Homo sapiens: one gene and its partners. The protein of the gene in region 3 interacts with the protein of the main gene of each other region in a pairwise test. Each region holds a gene or a part of one and is shown on either strand. Other genes may lie near its edges. The genes, in order: CDC25A, HNF4A and DMD.

What was found.
Region 1: the proteins of DMD (region 3) and CDC25A interact in a two-hybrid assay, tested with the Homo sapiens proteins (one large-scale study listed by BioGRID and IntAct).
Region 2: the proteins of DMD (region 3) and HNF4A interact in binary tests that used the Homo sapiens proteins (3 or more experiments, as listed by UniProt).

Annotation. Positions count from the first base shown.
Region 1 is NC_000003.12:48,164,398-48,168,052, reverse strand, and holds part of CDC25A (M-phase inducer phosphatase 1), read left to right. Parts: intron 1-108; coding exon 109-207; intron 208-2,159; coding exon 2,160-2,222; intron 2,223-2,318; coding exon 2,319-2,417; intron 2,418-3,615; coding exon 3,616-3,655. UniProt on the Homo sapiens protein: Tyrosine protein phosphatase which functions as a dosage-dependent inducer of mitotic progression. Directly dephosphorylates CDK1 and stimulates its kinase activity. Also dephosphorylates CDK2 in complex with cyclin-E, in vitro.
Region 2 is NC_000020.11:44,425,190-44,428,844, forward strand, and holds part of HNF4A (hepatocyte nuclear factor 4-alpha), read left to right. Parts: intron 1-3,145; coding exon 3,146-3,298; intron 3,299-3,655. UniProt on the Homo sapiens protein: Transcriptional regulator which controls the expression of hepatic genes during the transition of endodermal cells to hepatic progenitor cells, facilitating the recruitment of RNA pol II to the promoters of target genes. Activates the transcription of CYP2C38.
Region 3 is NC_000023.11:32,344,008-32,347,662, forward strand, and holds part of DMD (dystrophin), read right to left. Parts: intron 2,074-3,655; coding exon 1,936-2,073; intron 1-1,935. UniProt on the Homo sapiens protein: Anchors the extracellular matrix to the cytoskeleton via F-actin. Ligand for dystroglycan.

The DNA of each region.
Region 1 (3,655 bases), on a different chromosome or scaffold from region 3:
AAATGTAGGCATTAACATTTTAGTCTCCTCGAGACATGCTCCAAGTGAATGTTTTCGGAAGTTCCATTCAGAACCCTTGTCTCATTCTCTACCTTTGATTTGTTACAGACTCTTCATCAGTCTTTATCCCTGGCATCTTCCCCCAAAGGAACCATTGAGAACATTTTGGACAATGACCCAAGGGACCTTATAGGAGACTTCTCCAAGGTAATTGCAAGCAGAGCTGCTCTGGCAAGTGTAGGAGGGAGTGTGGGTATTTAGAATCCCACTCAGCCTGTCTCCCTCCCCAGGGTGGTTCCTGGCATACCTCCAAAAGGACACAGTTAAAAGAATGTTAAAGGTAGGGAAGCAAACTTAGTTTCTCATGATCAGGTATATGTTGGTTTCTGAGACTGTAGATATCACTATAGCTGATGGGCAGTTTTAGGTAGGGAGCTGTCCACCAACCACCTTGATTGTAACCCAAAGACTAGGCTCTCTGGGAACTGTGTTATTATAAAAATAGTAATTAGCAGGATAGTGTACAGCAGAAATAAATCTGTAGCCACACTACAAGTCTGCATGTTGAAAGGTTATCTTAGAAGGTCTGGGATTGAGACTGAATTTCTCCGTTCAGAGAAGCTTGGCCATTGAGGGAAAAGACCCTCCAGGAAGTCTAGAGGAAGATCTTCTAATAGCCTGATATACTACATGAAGGCTTGGCTGCAGTAAAATACAAGGCTAGGACAGGGAATGTGTCAATAGCAGCTTCTTTAATCACATTTTGACTTGAAGGTTACCAGATCAATGTTTTATTCATTAATTTAGTTAACATTTATTGAAGCACTTATGTGTTAGGCAGAGATTCCAAAATGAGATACAGTTCCTTCCCTCAAAGAATTTAGCATGTGGTTGGAGAGGTGAGACGTGAACTACATGTACCACATGGTAGACTGAAATAAATTTTAGTGAGGTGTAAACATAAACAGCATGCCGTGAGAAGTAAAAGGGTTTATCTTGGCTAGGGGGTTGGGGAACGTCTGGGGTTGGGCCGTTGATATTTCAGCCCAAATGGGTTTTGAAGGAACGGAGAATGAAGAGAACAAGCAAAGATCCAGCTGTATCCTCAGTTTTGGAACCTTCTCTTGTTTGGCAGGGAGAGATGTGGTCTTACTATGTTGCTCAGGCTGTAGTGCAGTGGCTATTCGCACATGCTATCATAGTACACTGTAGCCTCAAACTTATGGCCTCAAGTGCTCCCCCTGCCTCAGCCTCCCAAGTAGCTGGGACTACAGGCATGCACCACCACACTCAGTGGAATTTTCAACTTGAATTGAGGCCTGGTTATATTTGTCTTAATGGGCCTATGCATGGGGATAGATGAACTCTTGGCTCAGCCAGTCACCCTAATGAGTAATTGCTAATGTGTGCATCTTCCTCCTCAAGGCTGGGCTAGGTCTCTTTTTTTCCTATCCCCAGTGCCTGGCACCATGCTGGACATAGCAGGTGCTCAGTAAATGAGTGAAATCTGTATGTTTAAGTGCTATTCGCAGTCTAACTACTGACGTGTGGATTCTTGACAAAAGCAGGAGGAAAATGAGATTACCTGAGGTTTCTTTATTTAAATCTGCCTTACTAGCTAGGTAACCTTGGATAAGGTGCTCAAAATGGGGATAATATACCTCATTGGTTTGTGTGAAAATTAAATGTCAGGATGTTAATGAAGTAACTAGAAGAGTAACTAGTGTGTACTAACTAATGTTTGTTTGCTTGTTTGTTTGTTTGTTTTTTGAGAGGGAGTCTTGCTCTGTCACCCAGGCTGGAGTGCAGTGGTGCAATCTCAGCTCACTGCAACCTCCGCCTCCTGGATTCAAGCGATTTTCCCACTCCAGCCTTCCGAGTAGCTGGGACTATAGGTGCATGCTAACGCCCGGCTAATTTTTGTATTTTTAAAAGAGTTGGGGTTTCACCATGTTGGCCAGGCTTGTCTCGAACTCCTGACCTCAGGTGATCCACTAGCCTCGGCCTCCCAAAGTGCTGGGATTACAGGTGTGAGCCACCGTGCCTGGCCATTAATGTTTGTTTTTTAAAAGATGCCTCCTACCAGCCAGACAAAACAGTATAAGTGTGAATAATATATAGGCTTTCAGATTCTCTAAGTATCTTTTTTTCTTTTTAAGGGTTATCTCTTTCATACAGTTGCTGGGAAACATCAGGATTTAAAATACATCTCTCCAGAAATTGTAAGTCCATCCTTTTGAAACCCACCACACATCGGGTACTTGAATCTAGTTTTCCCTGACGGTCAAAGTTGATTCTCCCTAATTTTCTCTCAACAGATGGCATCTGTTTTGAATGGCAAGTTTGCCAACCTCATTAAAGAGTTTGTTATCATCGACTGTCGATACCCATATGAATACGAGGGAGGCCACATCAAGGTATGGATTCCTGAGACTTGCTGTAGAAGGAGCCCTAAACAGGATCTGTGGTTTTAAAGTGGGGAGGACAGTGACACCTGGCCACTTAGCTCATATGCTAGTTGTTAGAATTTTGAAACAATACAGTGAGTGTGGAAGGCATTTGATTCCGGGTGCTCTTAACGAATGTTCCCTTGTCTGCAATACTCTCTACCACCTTGTGCACAGTTATTCTTCATGTTTGTCCCTCACACCATCATTATCAAGGACACTTGTAGGAGGTACCCACTGATGTTTAAGTCATTCGGGGGACAAGAATGGGTTTCATAGCATTTAAGAGGCTTGGGTACCAATGTCTGAGCACCCCAGGGCTCCTGATGAGGAGAAGACCATCTCTGGCAACATGTCCTGGTGTCTGTGCCAGGCCTAGTGATGCCTCCAAAGTTGATTGTTCAGCAAGCTGCCTGGTGGAGGGGCGTGTTGGGACACACGTTCCCAAGAAGAAAGGAACTGATTTTGCCATTTTAATCTTTTTTTTTTTTTTTTTTTGAGACAGAGTCCGCTCTGTCGCCAGGCTGGAGTGCAGTGGCATGATCTCGGATCACCACAACCTCTGCCTCCTGGGTTCAAGCAATTCTCCTGCCTCAGCCTTCCAAGTAGCTGGGACTACAGGTGCACGCTGCCACGCCCGGCTAATTTTTTTTTTTTTTTAGTAGAGACGGGGTTTCACCATGTTGCCCGGGCTGGTCTCAAACTCCTGAGCTCAGGCAAACCGCCCGCCTCAGCCTCCCAAAGTGCTAGGATTACAGGCATGAGCCACGGCGCCTGGCCTGCCATTTTAATGTTTTACCCGATTAATAGTGTTTAAATATAGTAAGGAGGTACTTTAAATACGATGTTACTGTTTGCCATTGTCTTGTGGCTTTTGAAAATCCCCAAATTTATAAAACTACCTATAAAGTGTACCATTGTCATATTTGAATTGCCCATTTCCAGTCCCCATGTGCATTACTGTATGATGAACGTGTACGGACCCACAAAGCTCCATTGAGATACAGGTGCCAAATGGTCTACTGGGCTATTCAGCTAGAAGAACTGCAAAAATCACAAACTGGTCTTGTGGACTTAAAGATCACTCTTGATGAATCATTACATCTTGCTGAATCATTACTTCATGTGTGAAACGTGCAGGTTCCAAGGGTCTCTGTTGTCTTCACAGGGTGCAGTGAACTTGCACATGGAAGAAGAGGTTGAAGACT
Region 2 (3,655 bases), on a different chromosome or scaffold from region 3:
GCCAAGATGGTCTCAAACTCCTGACCTCAAGTGATCACCCACCTCAGTCTCCCAAAGTGCTGGAATGACAGGTGTGAGCCGCCACACCCATCCCAGACTAATGCTTCAAACAAACCACTCTGTTGGGTAGAGAGTGAATTGCAGATTCCTGAGAATGTCACTGTCTCCAATCATGTGATGGATGATGGAGGCTTGGACCCTGGCAATGGAGCAGTGAAGATAAACCTGATCATCTATTTGGAGGAAGAGCCCACACCCACAGGATTTGCTGATTGATCAGACATAGGGAGTGAGAGAAAGAGGAAGAGTCAAGGACAAAGTCTACATTTTTGCTTTGAGTAGCAGAAATGACGATGGAGTAATTTACTGAAATGAGGAGGACAGAATAAACAACAAGACACTGGGTCTGGGGGTGGTAGTGAGGGGTGACCTCAGAGATCCATTGTGGACCCTCTTTTCTTTTTTCCTTTTTTTTTTTTTTTTGAGACGAGATCTCTCTCTGCCACCCAGGCTGGAGTGCAGTGGCGCAATCATAGTTCACTGTAGCCTCAACCTTCCAGGCTCAAGAGATCCTCCTACCCCAGCCTTTCAAGTAGCTGGGACTACAGGTGCGTGCCACCACACCCAGCTAATTCTTCATTCTTATTTTTTATAGAGACAAGGTCTCACTATGTTGCCCAGGCTGGTCTTGAACTCCTAGCCTTAAGCAATCCTTCCGACTTGGCCTCTCAAAGTGCTGGGATTACAGGTGTGAGCCACCATGCCCAGCCTCATTGTGGACTTTCATTAAGCATGAGATGACTATTACAAATCCAAGTTATCAAGGAGGCTGTTGAATGTATGAGTCTGTTGCTCAAGCACAAGATTAAAGGCAGCTCTGTGGAATCAGGGGGAAGATGGAGCCATGGAGGGAAGGGAAGAAGACTGGCCAGAGGGGTAGGAGAAAACCAGGGCAATTCCAGAATCCAAGAGAAGAGCGTGTTTGAAGGACAGAGTGTTTAATGGTGTTAAACTCTACAGAGAAACAGAAAGAAGCGGGGAAGAAAGGAGAGGTGAAGAGAGGAGGGGAAGAGAGAGGAAAGGGTCCATTGGATTGACAGCTGGAGGCTCTTGGCAATTGTGTTGAAAGCAGCATCAGAGAGCTGGGAGAGTGGAAACCAGATTGGAGAGTGCTCCAAAGAGAGTGAGTGGGAAGGTGGAGATAGAGTAGATAACCCTTTGAAATGGTTTGACTATGAAGGGGAGTATGAAGGAGTTAGGATGACTGCAAGGGAGTGATTAGAATGATAGGTCATGGAGTCTGGGCTGCACTCAAAAAGAAATAAAGATAGAGGCCGGGCACGGTGGCTCACACCTGTAATCCTAGCACTTTGGGAGGCCGAGGCGGGTGGATCACTTGAGGCTAGGAGTTCAAGACCAACCTGGCAACACAGCAAAACACCATCTCTACTAAAAATACAAAAAAAAATTAGCCAGACATGGTGGCATGCACCTGTAATCCCAGCTACTCGGGAGGCTGAGGCAGGACAATCACTTGAACCCGGGAGATGGAGGTTGAAGTGAGCTGAGATCATGACATTGCACTCCAGCGTGGGCGACAGAACAAGGCTCTGTCTCAACAACAACAACAAAAGGATGGGGTGATAGTGAAAAGAGAGTGTCAGTGAATTGACAGTCTCAGTAGGGCTGAAGAATTTTTGCAGCGATGGTATTAGATTACGGGAGCTGGAAGGACATGAGGTGAAGTCAAAGTGGGGATGTTGAATTCGAGATTTTGGAGGTGTTTCAGTGACTGAAGATGACAAGGCGAGGGTGAGGTTTCTCAACATTGGTACTATTGATACTTGGAACTGGACAATTCTTTGTTGTGTGGGGCTGTCCTGTACATTGTTCAGCTGCATCTCTGTCCTGTACCCATAAGGTGCCAGTAGCACTTCTCCAGTGGTGACAACCAAAAATGTCTTTGGATATTGTCAAATGTCTCCTGATGGGCCAAAATCATCCCCAGTTGGGAATCGCTGTTATGTGATAGCTCATTTCATTCTCACTTTGACCCTGTGAACATGGGGTTATTATGAATCAGGTGTCATTGAGATCAGGATCAGGAGCCTGTGGTCTGTTGCCAAATAATTAAGAGCTCTCTGGGCTCAGTTGTCTCATCTGTAGAATGGGCTAATAATAGTATCCATCCTATAGGATTGCTGTGAGGATTAAATTATGTGAAACATGGGAAGTGCTATACAACAGTACCTGGCACGTGATAATTGTTAATTATCAACAATTGTTATTTATCACTGAAATAGATGTACTGTAGAGATCGCTTGCAAGCGTTGAAATTCCATCATCGTCATATTACTCACCATAGGCTATTATTAAACCATATCCCATGTGGTATTTTTACTCCCTGACATATGTTTGAAGCGGTTACTGTGTTCCAGACAATCTGCTAGGCCCTCAAAGAAAGAAGAAAAATACCTCTGAAATTGTAATGCTCATAGACAGAAGAAGTGGTTGTTCCTAAAAGTTGTGTTACAGACAAATTACTATGAGAAATCCAAGGAAGGAGAATCAGGAGAGGCTTCTAAAGAGAGGAAATATATGAGCTGGGATTTGGGCTTATGGACATGGAACAGGTTTGGGGTGGAAAAACATCTCTGACAGAAGCAACAACGTGAGCAGAAGCATAGAGATAGAAAAACACAGGGGACACATAGATGCTATAAGTAGGTCAGTTGGCTGCAGCAGAGATGTGGGGGATGAGGCTGAAAGGTGAGGCGGGACCAAATGGTTGAAGGACTTGCACTCCAAGGAGCTTTGAGAGCCATTGATTACATCCATTATGTTACTATGTGACCAATACACTACTCATTAGAACATTTACGTGATCTCAGAGCTTCCTTATATGCACCTTGTTCCTTTCAACTCACTTTTGTTCTCTTGGTTTTTTGGGGTCCTCTTAACACCCTCATGAAGTCTATAGATGGGAATGGTACACCCTAGTTTACTAACCCAGGAATAGGTACCCAACAGGCACTGCCAATATTGGATGGGCTGGTTGATTGGCCACGCCTGAGGAAGATGGCGTCCCAAGGCCTGAGGTCTGCATCCCAGACTCTCCATCCTGATCGACCTTCTCTACCTGCAGGGTCCCCCAGCGATGCACCCCATGCCCACCACCCCCTGCACCCTCACCTGATGCAGGAACATATGGGAACCAACGTCATCGTTGCCAACACAATGCCCACTCACCTCAGCAACGGACAGATGTGTGAGTGGCCCCGACCCAGGGGACAGGCAGGTGGGCAAACTCTGGGATTTTACCTTGCAAAGGGTGAGGATGGGGCTTAAGACAGGAGGCAGGAGAAAGTGGAGTCTAGAAGGTAGAACCAGGATGCAACAGTTTTCTGGGTTCCAGGGTAGGGAATAAAGGGCAAGATTGTCCATTTGTTGAGGCTGTTTATTCAGTAAGGTGACTGACAGCCTTTACTGAATGAAGCCATTGTTGGGATGAGGCAATCCACTGGATGAGGTAACCCATTGGGTGAAGATGTTCTTGGGTGAGAATTCCATTAGTTGACATTGTCCATTAAGTAAAAGTGGTCATTGAAGTAAGGCTGCACAGTTGGGTAAGGCTATCCATTAGACAATTAGATGA
Region 3 (3,655 bases):
AAGAAAACAGCAAGTGCATGCTTTCAAATCAATGTGATAAGACTAATTTAATAAATCAACAATGGGAGGAAATCAGTCATCATGCTCTTTACAAGCACACTCAATATCTTCTGTGATTAATAGAATTACTCAAAATGCCATTTTATAATTCATGGGAACATAAGCTCTGCATGCAGCTTTCATTTCTACAGAAAGTAGCAATTAGGGTTTTATTCACAGGTTTAATTCGAGCGAAAAAATAATAAATATCAGGGAATTTCTAAAAATTTCATTCCATTGGAAAATTTTGACCTTCTCTAAAATATTTCATAAGGACCAGAATTGGAACTATTTGACAGGTTTAAAAAGTTATTGAATATGTTGGTATAGATTGGTTTGGCGAGTAGTGTTGACGATTTTGATTAATCACTTATAGCCTGTATTTGCAAGAATGAACTACATTTCATTATCTAGTTTGTTTAAAATTGGGAATTTAAACCTTGCTGTACTTTATGTTTTATGTTGAATTTTCAAACCTTCTGAGGAGTCAGATCGAACGCTGCTTTTTTCAAAGGTAGCAAGATACAGCCACGTGAATTAGAGTTGAGCCATGCCTTATTTGTGACATAACTCACATCTTTGCCAGGAGAAAGGGCTTGGTGGTCATCAATCTGAAACATCTTTCATTTCCTAAGCACAAAGTGATGTATAATATGTAAAATATTTAGAGATGTCATGTAGATTTCTTTAGAGGAATGCCAGATGACCATTAAACACTGCTATTCAGTAGGACACACACCATCATACGACCAGTGTAGATACTTCTGAAAGCTTGCTCACAGTTGGAAGGGTGTGAGTTACATAGCGTTCCGATTTTCTAGACACATTATGGTGTGCTTTTGCACTCCCTCGAGGAAGAGGCCTTTTCTGTTTACTATATTTATCAGCAGTTACCTTCAGAACACCTGCTGGCCAATTAGACTTTCCTTGTGGATTCCTTGCAGGCACAATATTGTGTAATTACATTCTCAGCAGTGTTTATTTGGTTGACTATAGGGGGAAAGGTTTTATTCTCTTATTTGCATGTAGAAAGCAGACTCCATCTACCTGCTAGGTGGATCCACCTTCATAACTACATAGCTCAAAAGAGTGATTTACAAGGAAAAGCTCAGCAATTAAAAGTATTAGAAAATCAGCCATGCATGCAAATAGTGATTATTGCAAAGCATATACAAAAAAAAAGTTTCACAAAACTTTCCACATGTCTAGTCTCAAGAACTTCCTAGATATTATTATAGAAAAATTAAGTTTATCCTGCTCTTCCTGCACAAACCAGATGAGTCACCTGGGGACTTGAAGCCATACACTACACTGCTTAATATGAAAGTAGCAGTTCTTATTCAAGGGCACTAAGATTATTTTTTAGGATTCCTACATAAATGAAATTTGACTTTGTAGATAGTTGCAAAGAGTGACTTTCTTAAAGGCATAATAAAGTTTTAAAAATAAATAAAAGAATCTAGGGCTTATTAAACAAGTATCAGGTTACCAAAAAATTGGACCTAATGCAAGCAAAATCAATTAAGTAAAGAAAGCAGGAATAATGGATACATGTAGATCGGTTATTCTGGCAGTTAGGCAGGTTTTTTTCAATATAAAGTAGCTGATAAAAATAAAGCACATTAGAAAATTAAATGTATAAGTACTATGAATGCATTCCCATCTTTCAATTACTACTTAGAAAAATATGTCTTTAAAAAGCCATAACTTTTAAGCAACACATCGTTCAAAATCAAATACCACTCAAAAATGTTAAATAAAGCATACACATTGAACAGAAAAAGTGAGTTTCTGATGACTAAGTCTGAAGCAGATTTTATTAATGCACATTATATTTTACCCTATATATTAAAAAAAAACCACAGGCAAGGTATATTATAATTTTAGCTCTAATACCTTGAGAGCATTATGTTTTGTCTGTAACAGCTGCTGTTTTATCTTTATTTCCTCTCGCTTTCTCTCATCTGTGATTCTTTGTTGTAAGTTGTCTCCTCTTTGCAACAATTCTTTTACAGTACCCTCATTGTCTTCATTCTGATCAAAAACAACAAGTACAGTCTTCATTTTGGTTTTTAAAAAGCTGTACATTGTTAACAGAGATAATAAGACATGTTATTTAAACACACACAAAAATCCAATTTAAAACTTTCATGGAATGCTATTATAAGATACTGTGCTCATAGCCTTTCTTTTACATTTGGTACTTGAGGTTTCAAAATAAGTTTCCTCCCATCTAGTTGTAAAGAACACATTTTTAGGGGCACCTGTAGAAAGATGGGGGAGTGTGGTACTTCATCATGTCAGACAAGTCATGAATTACTGTGAAAGTATTCTTTTGGCTTTTTTAGTGTAGTTCTAGAAATTAAAACATTAGAGAAATGAGCTAAAGTTATCATTTATAATGTTAACTGATCCATAAAGGAATACAGATGTGTATTTGTGACTGAGATAACAGCAAATCTGAAAATATTAACACACAACTACATGAAAATATTTTGATTTAAATGTACACTAATTCCTATCTAATAACTCCTGCTTCATTTCTGAAACCTAAATGCTCAATATTAATAGGAGAAATATCAGGATATTAATAAAAATCATGTGCTAAGTTACCATCAAATAATTTCTAAAATATGTCATATATGCATGTTAATTTAAATACGATCAAATAATACTAAAATATGGACTGGAAAATGGCTTTAAACATTTTCAATGGGTATTTTGTTCCTTTAGGCTGCAAGAACAATATCTTAATTTTCTTTACTTAGAAATAAAATGTTTTGAATAAATGCTGGTCTAATATAGTCGCATATATGACCATGTGATTTTTCACCTTTAGTTTTCTTTCTTTCAACTCAGAATGTGAAAACTTTGTATCAAGTAGTCTCACATTGTAATGGTACTCAAGGTACACTGATGACATAAGGAAAACAAATAATAAATTTCAAAAGTCACAAGTATTTGTATGTGTGTATTACAATTCAAGGAATTAGATGTTATATATTTAAATCTATAATGCATAAACTTCAACACGCAACTGAGGACTGATTCATTTTGTATGGGGGAAAGGGATTATTTTTGTCAGAGACTGGTCAATAATCTAAAGAAACATACGGCATAATATAGACACATTATATACTTATCATAATATAGACACATCATATACTTATAGTCTGTAAAAGACTTTACTTATTTTAAAAGGTGTTGTAAAAGTCTGTAGCATTTTCTAGGGCTGAGGACAAAAACAACAAAAAATTAAAAAACCCACTTCACTTCTTTCCCTATACCAGTTGAGGGCTCTAGGGCAGAGTTGGGGTCAGCCCAAGAGGTAATCAGTACTTTTTTTCATCTTGGTGCCCTCTAGTTTCTTCTTTGACCTGAAGTAGAGATTGCTGTAACTCAGCAACTTGGAAAGCCTCTTCCGTCTTTCCACAAGCTGAGTTGGCAAGGCCACCAAACCCCATACATGGGGAGTATTGATTGAGGCAGCTCCAGGAAGTGGGAACTAAGATTGGTGGGAATAGTTCTCCTATTGCTTCACACACTTATTACCTAAAATTTATATATTGTCTTCTGATGTCACTTTCAAGCATTGTCTGAGAAGGCTCTAGCACTG